2 separate regions of the Homo sapiens genome follow, and region 2 is linked to region 1. Evidence: fine-mapped expression QTL. Tissue or cell type: whole blood. Region 1 holds a variant in brackets; the other region holds the start of a gene. All regions are shown on one strand. Distances are between the middles of the regions.

Region 1 (8,102 bases):
TGAATTGATGGGAAGTTGAGAAGCAGGCTTGGAAAACTGGCCAGAAGCAAAATAGGCTGGTTGAAGGGGAGGCAGGCAGTCATGGCCAGAGACAGCCCAGCTAGGGCAGGGGACATTGCCGCCTCTGGACACCGGCCACCTGAGGACACCCAGCTCATCTGGACACTGGTACATCATGAGCAATTTGTGACGGTCCCACTTTTGCATCCCACTCTCTCCAGGTCAAGATCCCAGACAAAGGGATAGTAGGAAGGAGTTTTTTGGGAACTGTTCTGTGTCCTGATTGTGGTGGTGGTGACATGAATCTATGCTTGTGCTAGAAATTCATAAAACAGCCATGCCCAGTGGCTCACACCAGTAATCTCAGCCCTTCGGGAGGTTGAGGCAAGAGGATTGCTTGAGCCCAGGAGTTTGAAACCAGCCTGAGCAACATAGTGAGACTCTGTCTCTATTATGTAAACAATTTTTAAATATAAAAATAGAAAACCACAAAACTATACACCAAAATAATTACATCAATTTTGCTCTATGTTAATTTAAAAAATAAAATCCTGGACAAAAACGCCCTACTGGCCACAGTAGTTTGTGTGCCCACAGACGAGTTGCCAGGTCAGGGAAGGGAGACGCTGCCACAGTCTCGGCTCACTGTAACCTCTGCCTCTGCACCCCTTTGGCTTTCAGAATGAGTTGGGTCTCTGCCATCCAGATTCACACTGTGGGAAATTCTGCTAAGAGGGAGGGAGCTTGGATACAGGGCAGCCAGCAGATGGGCAGATACCCACTTCCCCCAAGGCGCCTTTGGGTCCTTGGGAGCTTCTGAGGAAATGGCCCCCGACCCCACTGCGATGGCCACCCCTTCAGTCCGACCAGCAGCTCCTGAAGGGGAGGAGCAAGAGCAAGTTTCCTACCCAGTGGACAGAGGGGAACGTGATCACCATGCCAGAGCAGGTGCACATGCTCAGGCTCTGATGCATGTTCACGCAGCCCCCCAGCATCAGTCTGGTCATCAGGGGACCTGAGGTTGCATCTGGACTTTGGCCCTAACTTACTGCATGATCTTGGATAAATCCCTCTCCCCTCTGGGCCAAGTTGTCTCCTCTGTGGAATGCGGGGCTTCTCGACGGTGCTGTCCAGCTCTGGCATAGTGAGCACTGAGGCACCACAACGAATTGAACTGGCTCTTAGGAAGCCTGGGTAAGTCCATACCACTGTCCTGGACTGCAGTGGGTGGGTGAATGACCACATGTCGCAGGGAGACTCCACAGGTCCTCCCGATGAGAAGCACTCTTATGCCAAAGAGGAGACTCAGGCCAAAGTAAGGACACTCCCCCTCCAGAGAGTAGGAGTGCAGCGTGGGTGATTCCCCTCCTGTTTGCCAGTGCGAGGATGGGACTCTGGGAGCCTGGGGATGGGAGGTACAGTGGGTTTCCCAGGCCTGGACCCAAAGGGGATTGTATCCTCTGAGACCCCAGGCTCCAGGGCAGTGGGGATCTTGAATCAGGAGTATTTAACAAGCTCAGCGCTGGGCTTCACATACCCCAACTCTCAGTGTCCAGGCTTGTGGATGACATCCTCCCTGGAAAAATGCAATTCCTGATTCCTACAGCTTGTGTGCAGAGCAGCAGGGAGGGATAGCTTCTAGGTCCTGGATGTACATGAGTGTGCATCCGAGCTTCTCTCCCTTCCTCTGAGCCACTATGACACCTTGATCCCCTCACCACTTTAAGCACCTCTTCCAGCCCTTTCCTTGTCTGAAGAGCTTGCTCTCCCCCTGGCATCATGTGGGTGAATGGGGGTCTTGAGAGGCGGTGGGAGGAGCCCACATCCCAGGGGGTCTGGGGAGGCTGAAGGCAAGGGGAACAGTGACAGTGTGGCTTTCTGCACGGTCTGAGAGATCAGACAAGATGACAACAGCGAGACGGCTCAGAATCCTGGCAGAGGAGGCAGGGCTGGGGGCAGGGCTGGGGACACACACACACACCTGGGGCCTCCTCTCCTACATTCACATGGCCCTGGGCCCTGCTCTCTCCCTGCCCCCCTGCCCACCTGGAGCCCTGCTGCCTGGCCTGGGCCAGGATCCCAGAGAGGAAGGTGGGGAGGGAAGGTGGCAGGGGGTCTCCAAGGGGCCTGCCCTACATGGCAGGAGGCGGGCAGGGGAGGCAGGGGAATGTGCCACGGGACAGCATAGGCTTCCCTGAACTCATTCACCAAAAAAGCATGAGCCTTTCCCATAATTTTAAAGGTACCCTGTTGACCTGCCATGTTGCTATGGCTGTATGAGAAGATGAAACCAAGAGAGGCAACGCCGAGTGTCAGAAAGGGCGCCTTTCTCTGGCCTGCTCCCTCAGCAACCACAGGGCCCATCCTGTCCCATCCCCACCCCGGCTGCTGGGTACGTGGCTCCAGCAGCTCGGGGAGGCTGGGGCCCTCTGCCCTGGGTGTGGCGATGGAGAGTGTGAAACTGGACACCAGGAGCACAGAGAAGGGAGAAGGGGGAAAGCCCACTGGGAGCCAGCATTTTCCAAGGCTCTTTGTGCTGTCATGGTGGCAGAGGTGAAAGGTCCATCCAAGCTCCCTGGCCGCCCCCAGCTCGTGGGGAGGCACACAGATTAGCAACGACAACCCAGCTAATGCAGTTGGAGAGGGTGAGCACAGGGTCGGCAGGAGGAGGCGCCGACCCCACCAAGGGAGGAAGACGCAGCAGTGAGCCCCAGGGGAGAGGCCAGGGAGAGAGGCAGGAGGGGAGTTCAAGGGGCACCTGGAGGCCAGGAGGGGTGCTGGGGCAGCATAATTACACCTGTTCAGTGTGGAGCTGCTGGGATTCCTTCTGCTGTGTGTCCACCTGCTTTATATGAGTTGATTATGAGTTTGATTCTTGGCACAAAGTTAGGATGATGGAAATGCATTCTGGGCTCTTCAGTCGGGTACTGTTAACCCGCATGTGGGTTCTGAGCACCAGAAATATGGTGAGGATGCTGAGGAGCTGAGCTTCCAGCTGTATTACTTTTTTTTTTTTTTTTTGGGACGGAGTTTCACTCTTGTCACCCAGGCTAGAGTGCAATGGCATAATCTCAGCTCACTGCAACCTCCACTTCCAGGTTTCAAGTGATTCTCCTGCCTCAGCCTCCCCAGTAGCTGGAATTACAGGCGTGCACCACCATGTTAGCTAATTTTTCTATTTTTAGTAGAGACAGGGTTTTACCACGTTGGCCAGTCTGGTCTCAAACT[C/T]CTGACCTCAGGTGATCCAATGGCCTCGGCCCCCCAAAGTGCTGGGATTACAGGCGTGAGCCACCGTGCCCGGCCCACCTGTATTACATTTTAATTAATACAAATGCAAATGTTAAGTAGCCACCAGGGCCTCATAGCTACTGTGTGGGCAGCAGAGTATGGACACACTGGGGTACAGTGTTGATGTTGGAGAGACAGACATTCAACCAATACCCATTGGTCTAGTGTCAGGTTGTGATAAATGCTATGGAGAAAAACTGAGTTAGAGGGATGTAGCCGGCTGCTGTTCTAGAAAGGGTGGTCAAGGAAGGGTCTTGTAAAAAGGTGACCTGTGCAGAGACTTGTGTGCAAGGAGAGGATGTCCCTGGGGTATTCGGGGAGGCCACAGTGCCTGAAGCATCGTGGGAAACAAAGTCCAAGTGGATCCAGGGGCCAAAGTCAGTCGGGCCTTGCAGTCATGGAAAGGAGTGTGGGTTTTGTGTTATGAAGTGAAGCCCTTGGTCATTGCCACAGCTGACAGGACCAGGAATTAGCTACCCTGGTAAACCCAGCTATCGACTGCACCCGAGCGGCTACACACCACTGGAGCAGTTCAGGGAGAAAGCCACCGGCATGCTCACCGTATGTCTCTGGCTCTGTTTCCTCTTTCTGCTTCCCCTTCCCCACCTCTGAGTCTCTGTGTTCTGCTCATGCCAATTCCCCTTCTGCCTGTCTCTGCCCGCTTCTCTCTGGGCTGGTCTCTCCGAGACTCTGTTCCCTTGGCTGGCATGCCCTCCACCTCCCCTGATGGTTCAGCAGAGATGAAGCCGGCCTGGCTCATGGGTGTGGGTAATGTACTAGTGCAGGAGAGTGGTGGGGCCCAGTCTGGGTGCAGGAGTGAGAGGCATTAAGGCCTTAAAGACCCCTCATTCATGCCCAGGAGAAAGGCTATCCCAGCTCTGGGAAAGGGTGGTGGAGAAGGCTGTGGGAGGGGAGTCCTGTTCTACAGGCAGAGCCAGGATTTGCCCGGGACCCCAGGAACAGGGTAAGCAATGCTCACCATTTCCCAAGGTAACCAGGATAGAACGACCCTTCCCAGCTCCTTCCCAGCTCTTTCTCAGCCTCCATCTCAAGGAGACGCAAGGGGCTGGGGCGAAGGGTGTACAAGAGTTTCTGTCTACCCAGTGGGTCTCTGAAGAGCAAAATGGAGGGGTGGCGTGTATTAGTTTCCTTGTTGCAGCTTTCACAAATTACTACAACCCTTGTGGCTTAAAGCAACACACATTTATTTTCTTATAGTTCTAGGAGTCAAGAGTCCAAAATGAATCTTATAAGGGCTGAGAGGAGTGGCTCACCCCTGTAATTCCAGCACTTTGGGAAGCTGAGGTGGATGGATTGCTTGAACCCAGGAGTTTGAGACCAGCCTGGGCAACATGGTGAAAACCCATCTCTACATAAAATACAAAAAATTAGCCGGGTGTGGTAGTGCATGCCTGTGGTCCCAGCTACTTAGGAGGCAGAGGTTGCTGTAAGCTGAGATCATGCCACAGCACTCTGGCCTGGGAAACAGAGTGATATCCTAGCTCATAAATAAATAAATAAATAAATCTTCTGGGGCTAAAATCAAGGTGTTGGCAGGACTGCATTCCTTTCAGAGGCTCCGGCCCAGGGCGGGGGAGGGGCTTCATTGTTGGCCTCTTCCAGTTTCTAGACGCTGCCAGCATTTTTTGATTTGGCGGCGACATCACTCCAGTCTCTGTGTCTACCACCATATCTCTGACTCTCCTGCCTCTTCCATTTATGGGGACCCTTGTGATGACACTGGGCCCACCCCAGTAACCCAGGATAATCTCTCCTTCTCAAGATCCTTAATTTAATCATACCTACAAAGTTCCTTTTCTATAAGGAATAAGGAATAAGATAGCATACACAGGCTGCAGGGATTAGGACGTGGACTTCTTGATGGTGGCCGTATTCCACCTATCACAGGGGCTCCACACAGGGTAGACTGCTGCAGCCCCGTGAGGACAGAACTCTGTCTTTTCTCACTGCTGTTCCTGCCTTCTAGAGCTTGGGCAAAGTCACAGGATTGCACGGGCTCTGGAGCCACCTGCATTCATTCCTGGCTCTGCCTCTTCCTAGTGGTGATCCTTGGCAAGTCACTTAACCCATCTGTGCCTCAGTTTCTTTCTGTGTAAAATGGGGATAATAACAGTACTACCCTCAAAGGTTTTTTGTAAGGATTCGATGAGTTAATCCATCTAAGGTGCAGAGAAGCATGTCTGGCACGTCCATAAGGGCTCCGGATGGAATGTGCAGTGCCCAGCACATGGCGAGCATGTCACCTACCATCATTCTGATTGCAGTTCCTTCTCTAACGCTTCCCATGGGCCCAGCCCTGGGATAGGCCTGTGGCAACTACCGAAGAAGGCAGGGCATTTCTTGTGCTCAAGGAATTCAGACTTGCATCAGGAATACAAAGGCTCAGCCGGGCATGGTGGCTCATGCCTATAATCACAGCACTTTGGGAGGCCGAGATGGTTCTATCAATGGAGGCCAGGAGTTTGAGACTAGCCTGGCCAATATGGTGAAACCCCCATGTTTACTAAAAATACAAAAATTAGCCGGGCATGGTGGGACACGCCTGTAATCCCAGCTACTCTAGAGGCTGAGGTGAGAGAATCACTTAAACCTGGGAGGCAGAGGTTGCAGTGAGCTGAGATCACGCCACTGCACTCCAGCCTGGGCGACAGATGGAGAAACTCCATCAATAAAATAAAATAAAATAAAATAAAATAAAATAAAATAAAATAAAATAAAATAAAATAAAATAAAATAAAGGCTTATAGAAACATAAAACTTTACTTTTTCTGGAAGGACTTCTAAAAATTATTTCACAAATGTTTGTGCTCTTACGTTTTCTTCATGATGTATCTGTGATCATCACTGGTGCAATCTGCCAAGTCTCTCCAGCTCGCCGCCTTCTGGGCAGGTGGCAGAGTTGCACTCGTTGCCTCCATGTGGGTGGGCCAGGTTCTAGGACTGGTCCTGGCCAATGAGTTGTGAGCACCATGAAAGTGTCACTTTCAGGCCGTGGCATTTAATTCCTGGTGAGAGCGAGACCTTCCAGCGTTCTCTCTTGCCCTCTGTCACAGCGTCTCTGTCAGCCAGTGCTCTGAGTGACTGCCATGAGCACAGCCTCCTGCTGACCCACGACGAACATGGAGAGTAAGAATTAAATTGAGTTGTCTTACGGCCCTGAAATTTAGGAGTTGCTTGTCACCTCAGCATAACCTAGCCTCTCCTGACCGATTCAGCAACTAAACTTGTTTACAGAGGGAAAAATCCAATCAACACCATCACACTATTATTGATGACTCACCATTCAATCACCATCTCTGTACCAATCTATAACTTAAATAGCTGGGATCCATGAAGAACATCCACTTTTGTGCCTACTTTTCCATTCAACGTTTTTTCCCTGCGTGTTTCTATCAGTTAGAACTTGATTTGGTTATTAATGGCAGAAAATCCAAATTAACAATGATTAAACACCCAGGGTTACTTTAATCCCTCAAGTAAAAAGTTCAGAAGTAGGCAGTCCAGGGCTGACACGGTGACCTGGTGATAATGAATCAGCTTCCTTCTTTCACGTGACTCTGCCATGCACAGCAGATGCCTTCCTCCAAATGGCCCAAGGTGGCTGCTGAAACTCAAATGATCACAACTGCATTCCGGCCAGCGGGAAGGAAGAAAGCTCCAGGAGGGGCATGCTCCTCTCTGTAATGACATGTGTCACAGATGACTGTTCTGTTTATATCCCTTTGGCCAGAACTTGGTCACAAGGCCACACCTAGTTGCAAGGGATATTGGGAAATGGAATATCTCTTCTGGGCAGCCATGTACCCTGCTAAAGTTTTTTCTAAGGGTGGAAGAGAGATGGATCCAGGGAGGCAACCGGCAGCTGCTGCCACAGTGTGAGCTGTTATTCCTTCACGTATAAATTCCATGGCTTAATGACCAGTTTGGACCTTTCTAGTTTTTTTCACATTCCAGATAATCATATTAGTGCAAATTGCTTTTCTCCATTTGTGTTATTTCTTTGAGATTTATTTCCAAATGTGTGATAACCTGCCAAGCCGAAGGGCATGAGTTGTTCTCTCCGGCAGTAGCTGCTGCTGTTACATTTTGCTATAGCCCAAACAATAGAGCTGTGGAGAATTTAGGAGCCAATGTTCCCGTTTCCTCCCAGCTGGGCCAACATTGCCTCGTACTATTTTCATCTCTTTTAATTAATTTAACATGTGTGTTGTTTAAGGATGTTTTCGTTTTCATGTTATTCACTGGCAGTCAGCTGAGATTTGGGCCCAGGACTGGTTTCCCAACTACATTTTCTCACATATTAACTTTTTTTTTTTTCCAACTGGAAGGAAATCTTTAATGCCCATTTTAGAGCTGAGAAAACTGAGGCCCTAAGGATGACGTCACATGCAGTTATGACAGAGGCAGTACTGCACCCTAGCTTGGACTCCTAGCCCAGTGCTCCTACAAACAGCGTGTTTAAAGGATAAAGGAGGTATATGATGGAGGCTGAAATGCAGTAAGAAAGCACTGGATGGGAAATTGTGGGCCTCCCTAGGTGAGGTTTGTTTTGACTAATTAACCCCCATGGCTTTGTGCAAGCTGCTTCCTTTCCCTGGGCCTCACTTTCCCCAGATGCAGAGTAGGAAGGGTGGAGCAGACCCTCTCCAAGACCCTTCCAGCTCTTGATGGAAAGTACAATAATCAGTGCTAGGACAACTGAGGAGGATGGGGTAGGAAGGTGGGGAAGACAGGGGAGATCCACGGGGCCTAGGGAAGGTGGCAGAGGTCAGGGATGGGGGGTCTGGAGAGGG
Region 2 (8,102 bases), 110 kb before region 1:
TGGTCAGCAACGAGTTCCTGAAACCTCCTGGGGCCCAAGTGCTAGGTTTTCTTTGAGGCAAATATATATATATATATATATATATATATATATATATATACACACACACATATATATATATATATTTTTTTTTCTAGTGGGAAGTGACCTAGAATGATCTTGAGTGGAACCGAAGACTTGGCAGCTGGGTGCTGACCACCAAGCCTCCAGATAGCCTGACCTCAGGCTCATCCTGTGCCCTATGGCCCATGTCAGGTCTAGCAGTCTAGCTCTCATGTCCCCCCTGCCCTTGGTGCAATTTGGGGGCCAGAGTATTGTTCTCTGTGTCTGTAAAGGGAACAGGAAACAGTTCTTGTGGAAACATTATTTGATACCTAGGCCCTTGCCCCTCTTCAGTATAGAACAGTGGGAGAGGGCAAGGTCGCCGAGCCAAGCTACTGAGGTCAAAGCTCAGTTTGGCCCCTTAGCAGCTGAGTGAGTCACTACATCTTCCTATGTCATTCCATGAGAATAACAGCCCTGTCTTACATAATGGTTATGAAGATTAAATAGTTAATACAGTGCCTGGCATGTGGTGTCAGCTGTTATTCTTATTACTCCACTTCTCTCTAGGAAGACAGGGATCTTACCTAGTTTACATCTGGGGAAACTGAGGCCTAGAGAGGTTAGGACTGGGACGCAGGACTGATGTCTAGGGCTCTTTCCCTTCTCTGAGGTTGCCTCCCATTGTCAGACACTGGGCTGTGTTGAGGCAGCAGGCAGGGCACACTTGGGGGAGGAGACAGCTGAATTTACAGACACACACAAACAGGCTGTCAAGGTATTTACACTGCATACAATTAGCTGCAGAGTATTCACAAGTGGATTAGCTACAGCAAATGTTCAATCCCAGCCTGGCTAACTTGGTCCTCTGTTCCCCCCACCCCGCCATCATGAACCTTCTTTCTCCTCCAGGCTAGTGTGTGAGTTTAGAGAGGGCAAAGTCAAGAGAATGTCAGCTGAGTCAGTGCAGTTCTCTGTCCCCAGTAACTCACCCCAAAGCCAAAGAGGAGCAATTGACTGCTGTTTGGTGTTGGAACAGCTAATTGGAAAATCAGAGCGCAGTTTCGCACGACATGGAGAAGTACACATTCAGCTCAGAATGGGCAAAGCCAGGAAGAGCCACAGTCGCTGTGATCACTCCCTGAGAGCTTCCTGGAAGGGGTAGAGACTTCCAGGAACCCTCTAATAATGGGAAGAGGATGACAATAGAAGAAGCTATCCCTCATCACTCCCTCAATTGGCACCACTTCCTTTTCTGACTGGATGGGGGAGGCGGGAAGAGGCATGGTGGCTGTGTATCTCTGTGGGACAGAAAATGAATTTTTTGCCTTTGAGGTAACAGTCCGGGGCTGGGGAGTGAAAGGATGGCTACCCTGAGGGTATCCCAGGTCTGTGATATCTGGCCATGATGGGCATCATTCGTGAATTCACTGAACATGTCTGCAGCTGGCATCTGCTGGGAGCACCGCACTGAGTCTGGACTTCCTATCAGCCTTGGACCCACGGGGTAGAAAGGAGAGAAAAGACGGAAGAGGGCACAAGGGAGGCGCAAACGAGTGGAGGTGGGCTAGAGAATAGGAATCTTCGGATGTTCTCGGGCTTCCTGAGATGGACAGAAAGGGGGCTGAGAAAGGAAGGTGGAACCCCCCCATGCCACCAGGCACTTCCCGACACCTCCCGCTCCTCTTCCAGCAGTCAGGAGCGCGCGCTCCGGTGGGGCTTAAGCCCTGGAGAGTCAAGGGAGGAGAGACCCAGCAGGAAATGGGCCTGGGGAAGGGACGGTTCATTATTATTATTTTAAAAAAATTTATGTTTCAATTTATATGCAGACTAACCTTTTTGGAGTGTGGAGATCTTTGAGTTTTGACAAATGCATAGAGCCGTGGAACCACCATCAAGATATTGAGCAGTTCCAGGGGGCGAAGGGAGGGGGGGTTCGTAGTCTCCCCGCTTGTTAGCTGCTGCGATTGTCTGCGCTCCCACGGGCCGACCTAAAACAATTCTTGCGCACACGCTGAGATAAATAACGGCGACAGGTGGAGCAGGTGAGATTAGCAGGACCCGGGTTGGGCGCGGGGCGGGATCGGAGGCGCGGGGGAGGCCACCAGCCTCGCTTGCCAGCCTACGCCCCTCCCCGCGGGCGTTTGGGAGGAGCGTTCTCCGCACTCCTGCTCCGCGAGGGCCCCTTCGAGGCGGCTGAGACCCGAGTGCCGGACTCCCGCCGCTGGAGCGGGGCTCGGGTTCGGCAGCCGGAAGGAGGTGTGCCCCCGGGGCGCTTGGGGGCGCCTGAGGTCCCGAGGGGAGGCAAGATGGGAAGAGTGGCTAGCCGAGGAAAATGTGGGGTGACTTAGGGAAGCTCTGGCGGAGGGGTCGTGCGAGCAAACCTGTTGGCAACCTGTGGGCCGCGGCAAGGGCAGGAGCTCTCAGCGCGACCTCTCCGCCAGCTGCTCCGGCCCGGCCCCAGCACCAGACGCCTGGAAAGGGGCGGGGGCCTCTCGAGCCGGGCAGACAGCCTTGCAGACCCACAGCCGCGGCCCGTCTCGCGCGGCTGCAGGACCCCAGGAACCGCAGGCGCCCGGCCTTTCCCTAGGACCCCCGCTTCAGTCCCGCCTCCCCAAAGTGCAAAACATTTACGAAGTGTGCAGTGCCCTGCGGGCATGGGTCTCCGAAGCGAGCGGCCGTGTTTGCCCCGCGGGCTGCTGGCAACGGTGCACCCGGCTCGGCCAGCTAGTCTGGGTGTGCAAGGCTGGAGAACAGCGAGTGTGCGAGCGCGCGGCTGCAGAGCCCCCGCCGAAACCCAGGTCCCTCCGCCACTGTCCTCGGGATAGATGGATCCATTTCTGCTTTCTGACATTTTCCTGCTGGGCGGGGTTGGGGGGGAATGTTAGGGGGCGGAGAGAGGAAGAGAGAGAGAGGGAGAGGAGAAAGGGAAAGAGAGGAGAGGAGAGGAAGGGAGAGAGAGCGAGAGGGAGAGAGAGAGGAGAGAGAGAAGAGAGAGAGAGGAGAGAGAGAGAAAGAGAGAGAGAGAGAGAGAGAGAGAGAGAGAGAGAGAGAGAGAGAGAGAGAAAGAGAAAGAGAAAGAGAAAGAGAAAGGCAGGCAGTCAGCTTCCCCCAGCCCTGTTTTGTTTTCTCTAATTGGTCCTGGGGGAGGCGAGGAAATTGGACAGAGGCTGGGCCAGGCGAGCTGGGCTGCCTTTAATTGGCTCCTTTTTTTAACTGGAGGGGAATCAAACAGGAGAGCGAGCGACAACGGGTGGGAGAGCGAGAGACCGAACGAGGAGACGCGAGGAGGAGGGAGGAGGAAGAGAGGGAGGGAGGCGGGAGGAGCGCGGAATGAAAAGCTCGGAGGGGCGAAAAAGCAGCACAGCAAAGCCCAAGTTGCTGAGCGAGCGGAGCGCTCCCGCGGCCCGGAGCCGAGCGGCCGCCGCGCCCCGGAGCCCGGCCCGGCCCCGCCCGCTCTGGGCCCCCGCAGGCCAAGGCCGCCGGGCGGGGGCGGGGACGACCAACTTGGGGCGCGGCGTAGCCCCGCTCTCCCGAGAGCTCGGAGCCCGGGAGGGCTACGGCCGCGGCCAGACGGCGGGAGAGGAGCGCGGCGAGCGGAGGCGGCGAGCGGCGCCCGCGCCGCAGCCCCGGCCTGGGCGAGAGCGCGAATATTTTTCAAAAGACTCAAACTTTCCTCCTTTCCCCGTTTTCTGGGGCCCTTCTTGCCTGGAATTGCTCTCCAGATTCCCGCGGGGCGCCGGGCTGCTATTCTTCCCCCGGGTTTATCGGCGGCTCGGCTAACTTCACGGACCCGGGGACCCGCGGCGCTCGTCCCTCGGCCGAACCCAGCCCGCGCTGCTCCCCGGATCAGGAGGGCCGGGCCCGGGGCTGCTTCGCCGCCGCGAGTGCTTTCAGCCCGGCCCCCTGGAGTCGGGCCGCTGAGCCCACGGCAGCGGCCGCAGGACTGGAAACAGCAGATTGATTAACTCGAGCGGAGCCCCGGCCTCCCCGACTCCGCTCCGCTGAGGGGCGGCCCCAGTGCGGGGAAACGACAAGTTTGTCAGTCGTCCGTGGCCTGTTGGATCGAAGCGCCGCCTCCGCCGCCGAGAGGTCCCCGGCGCCTAGCATCCCGCGCGGACGGCCCTGGGTACCCGGGGCGGCTCGGCGGCCGGGCTCCTCGGGTCGGGGCGCTGGCTGCTGTGCCGGGCGCGCCGAGGCACCCGGGGCTGGGCCAGCGCCCCCTGCGTCCCCACGCGGGCAGCGGCCCCGCCGGAGGAGAAACACGGGTCGCCGCCACCTCCGCCTCTTCAGTCTCCTGGTCTTCGTCGCCGCTCTCTCTCTCACCTCTCAGGGAAAGGGGGGGACATAGGGGCGTCGCGGGGCCCCGGCGAATGCGCCCCCCGCCGCCTCTCGGGCTGCGCCGCCTCGCGGGGATGAAGCACCGGCCGTGAAGATGGAGGTGACCTGCCTTCTACTTCTGGCGCTGATCCCCTTCCACTGCCGGGGACAAGGAGTCTACGGTAAGAGCCCGCGTCCCGCTCCACCTTGGCTTAACCTCGCGCGGAAACTTTGCAAGAGGCGCAAAGTGCGCGCTGCCGGGGTTTGGTGGAGACCTCGACTCGGACTCTGGAGTGGATGCCCGCGTCCCCGCCCTCTCCAGGGCGCGTGGAGACCGAGCTAGCTGCTTCGGAACACAGGGGCCGGTCGTAGGGTCTGGTGGGAAGCCGGGATGTCAGGAGGAGGCACCCACTTTCCCACACCCTGCTAGAGGTGGGAATGATTAGGAACCCTTGAGAGCACCCGGTCGGCTCGGGAGACCCGGACAGACCCAGTCTAGGACTGGTGCAGCGACTTGCACCGAAACCTCGTCCTGGCTCGGCCTCCGGAGTGGAAGCCAAGCGATGCATGAGCCGGAGTTGCCGCGCGGCTTGCGGGCGAGCCGGCTGTCAGCACCAAGGCCGGGCGGCGGGCTCGCCTTCCCCGCTGTTGCTGCGGCTTCGCTTCTTCTACTCAGGGCTTGACACCCTGATCAGGATGCCGGCATCCCCTGGCCCTGGCGCCTTCGACCCCGGCATCCCTTTTCGGACCTTCCCTGAACCAGTTCTTCCTGTCCCCGGTTCTTGGCTACAAACCCCAACCCCACCTTCCTTCCTGCGCGCACACACAGATACATTCAGCCACCATCCCCAGAAAACGCAAACACGGCACGCACCCACCGGGATACGTGTCCAAACTCTGCCTCCTGCCACGCAGCCTTGCTCCTGCGTCCGCACGCCTCGCTGTGGTTACCAAGGGAGACTCTGGTTACCCCTTCCCCCTTCCATCCTGTGGGTTTTCCCAGGGAAGGCCCGGGGCAGGCATCATCCATTCAGTCACCTGGGCTCAGCCTCCCGCAGTGCCTTAACCCCACAGCACAAAAAATCATTCTCAGGGGCCCAGTGGCCCTTACTTTGCTTTCTCTTTACTGCAGGATGGTTTGTCCAGGTCCCTTTTTAGTGATGTGTGGCTGGGGCGGGCAGGATTCTCTCTTTCCTTTTCTGTTGGGTGGAGGGACTAATGATTCCTCTTTTAGATCCAGGGGAGGTTGACCTGTTCTTTGTGGGGTAGTATAGGCACTGACTACTGGTTGCCAGCCTCAGGTGCTGAGGCTAAAGCACCCTGGAGGGTGCTGACCCATCTGCCTGTGCCTGGCAAGAAGAAGGGGTGTCCTGAAGGGTGTCTGAGAGGTGACATGCTCCTGGCCCTGCCCAGCTAGCTGGCTTGGCCTTAATTCTCTGGTAAGACTAGCCCAGGCATCTGGCCAAACTCTGCTTCTTAATTAGTTTGTGTGTCTCTTACTGCCTGGCCCCTCACAGAGGCCAGGAAAGGCAGGAAAGAATGCAGCAGGGACTGGGAGAGGCTGGGTTTGGGGCGAGGAGGCCACGGGGCAGGTACTGGAGGCCTTGGCCTCTCCAGGGCAGATGAAGATGCCAGTGGACTGGGGTTTCACTTTCTTCTTTCTCCCCAGGTCAAGGTGCCTAAGAGAGGTGCTGCTGAGGTCTTTGCCTTCTCACCACAGCCCCGGGGCTGGGGAGGGTGATGGAGAGCCCTTCCTGCATGCTGCTGTCCTCCACTCTACCCTCCTTCCCTGTGTCATTGGGTGCATTTGGCAAGACCCACTCCTGGTCATCCCTGTCCTCCATCCCCTCCAGCTTCTCCAGCCTTCTCTAGGCTGCTTGGGGCTCATCTTTGGGAGGTTCCTCTGTTCCTAGTCTAGTAAACCCAGCAATGAGAGTGGGGTTTGGAGTCAGGGGCAGTGGTCTCTGTGGACCCTCATTTCAGAGTACTCTAGGGCCAGGATTCAGCCATAGGCTTATCTATACCCTTTTCTCTCTGTGTTTTCTCCCCTCCCGCCTGTGCCTAGGTCCCATTTGCTCTCACTCAGAGCCAATCAAAGTGGGCTGGGTGTGCTGGGGCCGACCCTGGGCCCTTGGGTGACATGCCACTTTTCCTTTGAGAGCTTGGCTTCAGGCAGTGTTGGGGCTTCAGGGAAATTGCTGGGTAAAAAGTCTTTATTGAGGTGGATGAAGGCAGAAGATTTAGGAGGAGGAGGAGGAGGATGACAGGAGGTCGCTGAGTTCCTTGTGATGCTAGAATCTTTGGCCAGATACAGCAGAAGGGAGGATCTCTGTAGGACCAGGACTGGCTTAAGAAGTAGGTCGAAGATCTGGGACTAGTTCTTCTGCCCCCCTCCCCAGCAGTCTTTCTGTACCCGCGAAGCAGAAGAAACAGCATGAGAGTGAAGGCGGCACATAGGGACCAGGGATGGCCACTCCAGCCTGGCATTGCATCCAGCATCCAGCATGGTCCCCGGCACAACAGCAGGAGCTAGGCAGGTATTTGTTGAATGAAGAAAGGGCTATAGTTGGGGGCAGGTTGGAAATTCTTTCTCCATGAGAAGTCTCTCTAGGACTTGGTTTCCAGCAGGGCAGTGGGGGCATTGTTTAAGGGTCTCTGCTTAGGGCGAGTCACAGAGTCCTATCCTGCAGCCCTAGAAGAGAGAAGAGGCTGGAAGCCTAGTATTGCCCTGGCACTGGGGAGGGAGGCAGCAGGTCTAATTCAAGACATAGGAGAAAAATGTATATCCTGGGGAGGAATCCCCTGCCCCTGCCCCTCTGCCCCCAGACCTGTGTGGATAAGGGAGGGGCTGAACAGAGGGGAGGAAGACGAGCAGGCGGTGGAGAGCGAACCTGACGGCATTCGGCCTAGGCTGTGTGTCTCTGCTGAGGCTGGTAGGAGGTAGGTGCCTAGAACCCTATGTCCTGCTTCCCACTGAGGTCCACCACCTGCCCTAGGATCCATGGTCTGCAATAGGGCTGGGGAGGCAGCACTCTCAGTTTGGCCAGGTGGCTTTGTTCTTTGGGGCACAGATGCTACAACGGCCAAGTGCTGGACCAGATGGTCCATTTGGAGCCAGTTCTCCCTCCCTCCTCGCCTCCCAATCTCCTGGCCCAGTTTGTTGTCCTCTGGGGTGGATCCTGTAATCTGCTTTCTGGCAAGCCAGGGGGCTGGGCTGGCCCCAGTGGCCTAGTTCTGGGGCAAAGGCAGTAGCCAAGTGATGGAAGAGGAATATCTTGCATGCGGATAGCGTCAGGGAACACCCCGCCTTCTGTCCCGGCTTCTGCTCCTCTCATAGCAGTCGGACCGCAGGTCAGTGGGATTCCTCTCCCTTACAAAAACACAACAAACCCCTGAATTATTTAATATGCAGAAGTGGGAATTGACATTATCCTTAAGACAGGTTGTTTGCAACTTACTGGTGGAAGTCAAAATATTTCACCAAAGGTGTCATCAGAAACTACTATCCTATGTTAATTTTTGTAGGAACATGAAGACAGATGTTGAATAATTTGACAAGAGCAACACAGCTTACAGAATTATCACTAAGTCAGGTTTTTTTCCCTCCTCTGGGGAGCACGGAGAAGGAATTTCAGGAAGTGAGTGTCCCAGTGTCATCTCCCGGGTGTTGATCTGGGTGTGGGCACTTGAGGTTTTTCACTGGAGTTCCTACCCCATGCCTTGAAACTTTGGTTTCCTGG

Evidence for each region. PIP is the estimated chance that this variant, and not a neighbour inherited with it, causes the effect.
Region 2: MDGA1 starts here. The variant in region 1 is fine-mapped to the expression of MDGA1 in whole blood (INTERVAL, PIP above 0.99).

What each region holds. Positions count from the first base shown.
Region 1 is chr6:37,579,215-37,587,316 of GRCh38, reverse strand. It overlaps LOC124901313 (a long non-coding RNA gene), which reads right to left. Exons shown (of 2, transcript XR_007059568.1): 2 at 6,755-6,987. Among named protein-coding and RNA genes, the nearest start is that of MIR4462, 28 kb to the right of the region's middle. RefSeq lists enhancers at 1,758-2,430, 2,431-3,104. The variant C/T (reference allele first, on the strand shown) is at 3,229.
Region 2 is chr6:37,693,187-37,701,288 of GRCh38, reverse strand. It overlaps MDGA1 (MAM domain containing glycosylphosphatidylinositol anchor 1), which reads left to right and starts at 3,406. Exons shown (of 17, transcript NM_153487.4): 1 at 3,406-4,544. The coding sequence starts at 4,478. RefSeq lists silencers at 2,295-2,364, 2,385-2,454, 3,321-3,450, 3,471-3,540, 3,601-3,730 and 3 more and enhancers at 4,053-4,782, 4,783-5,512.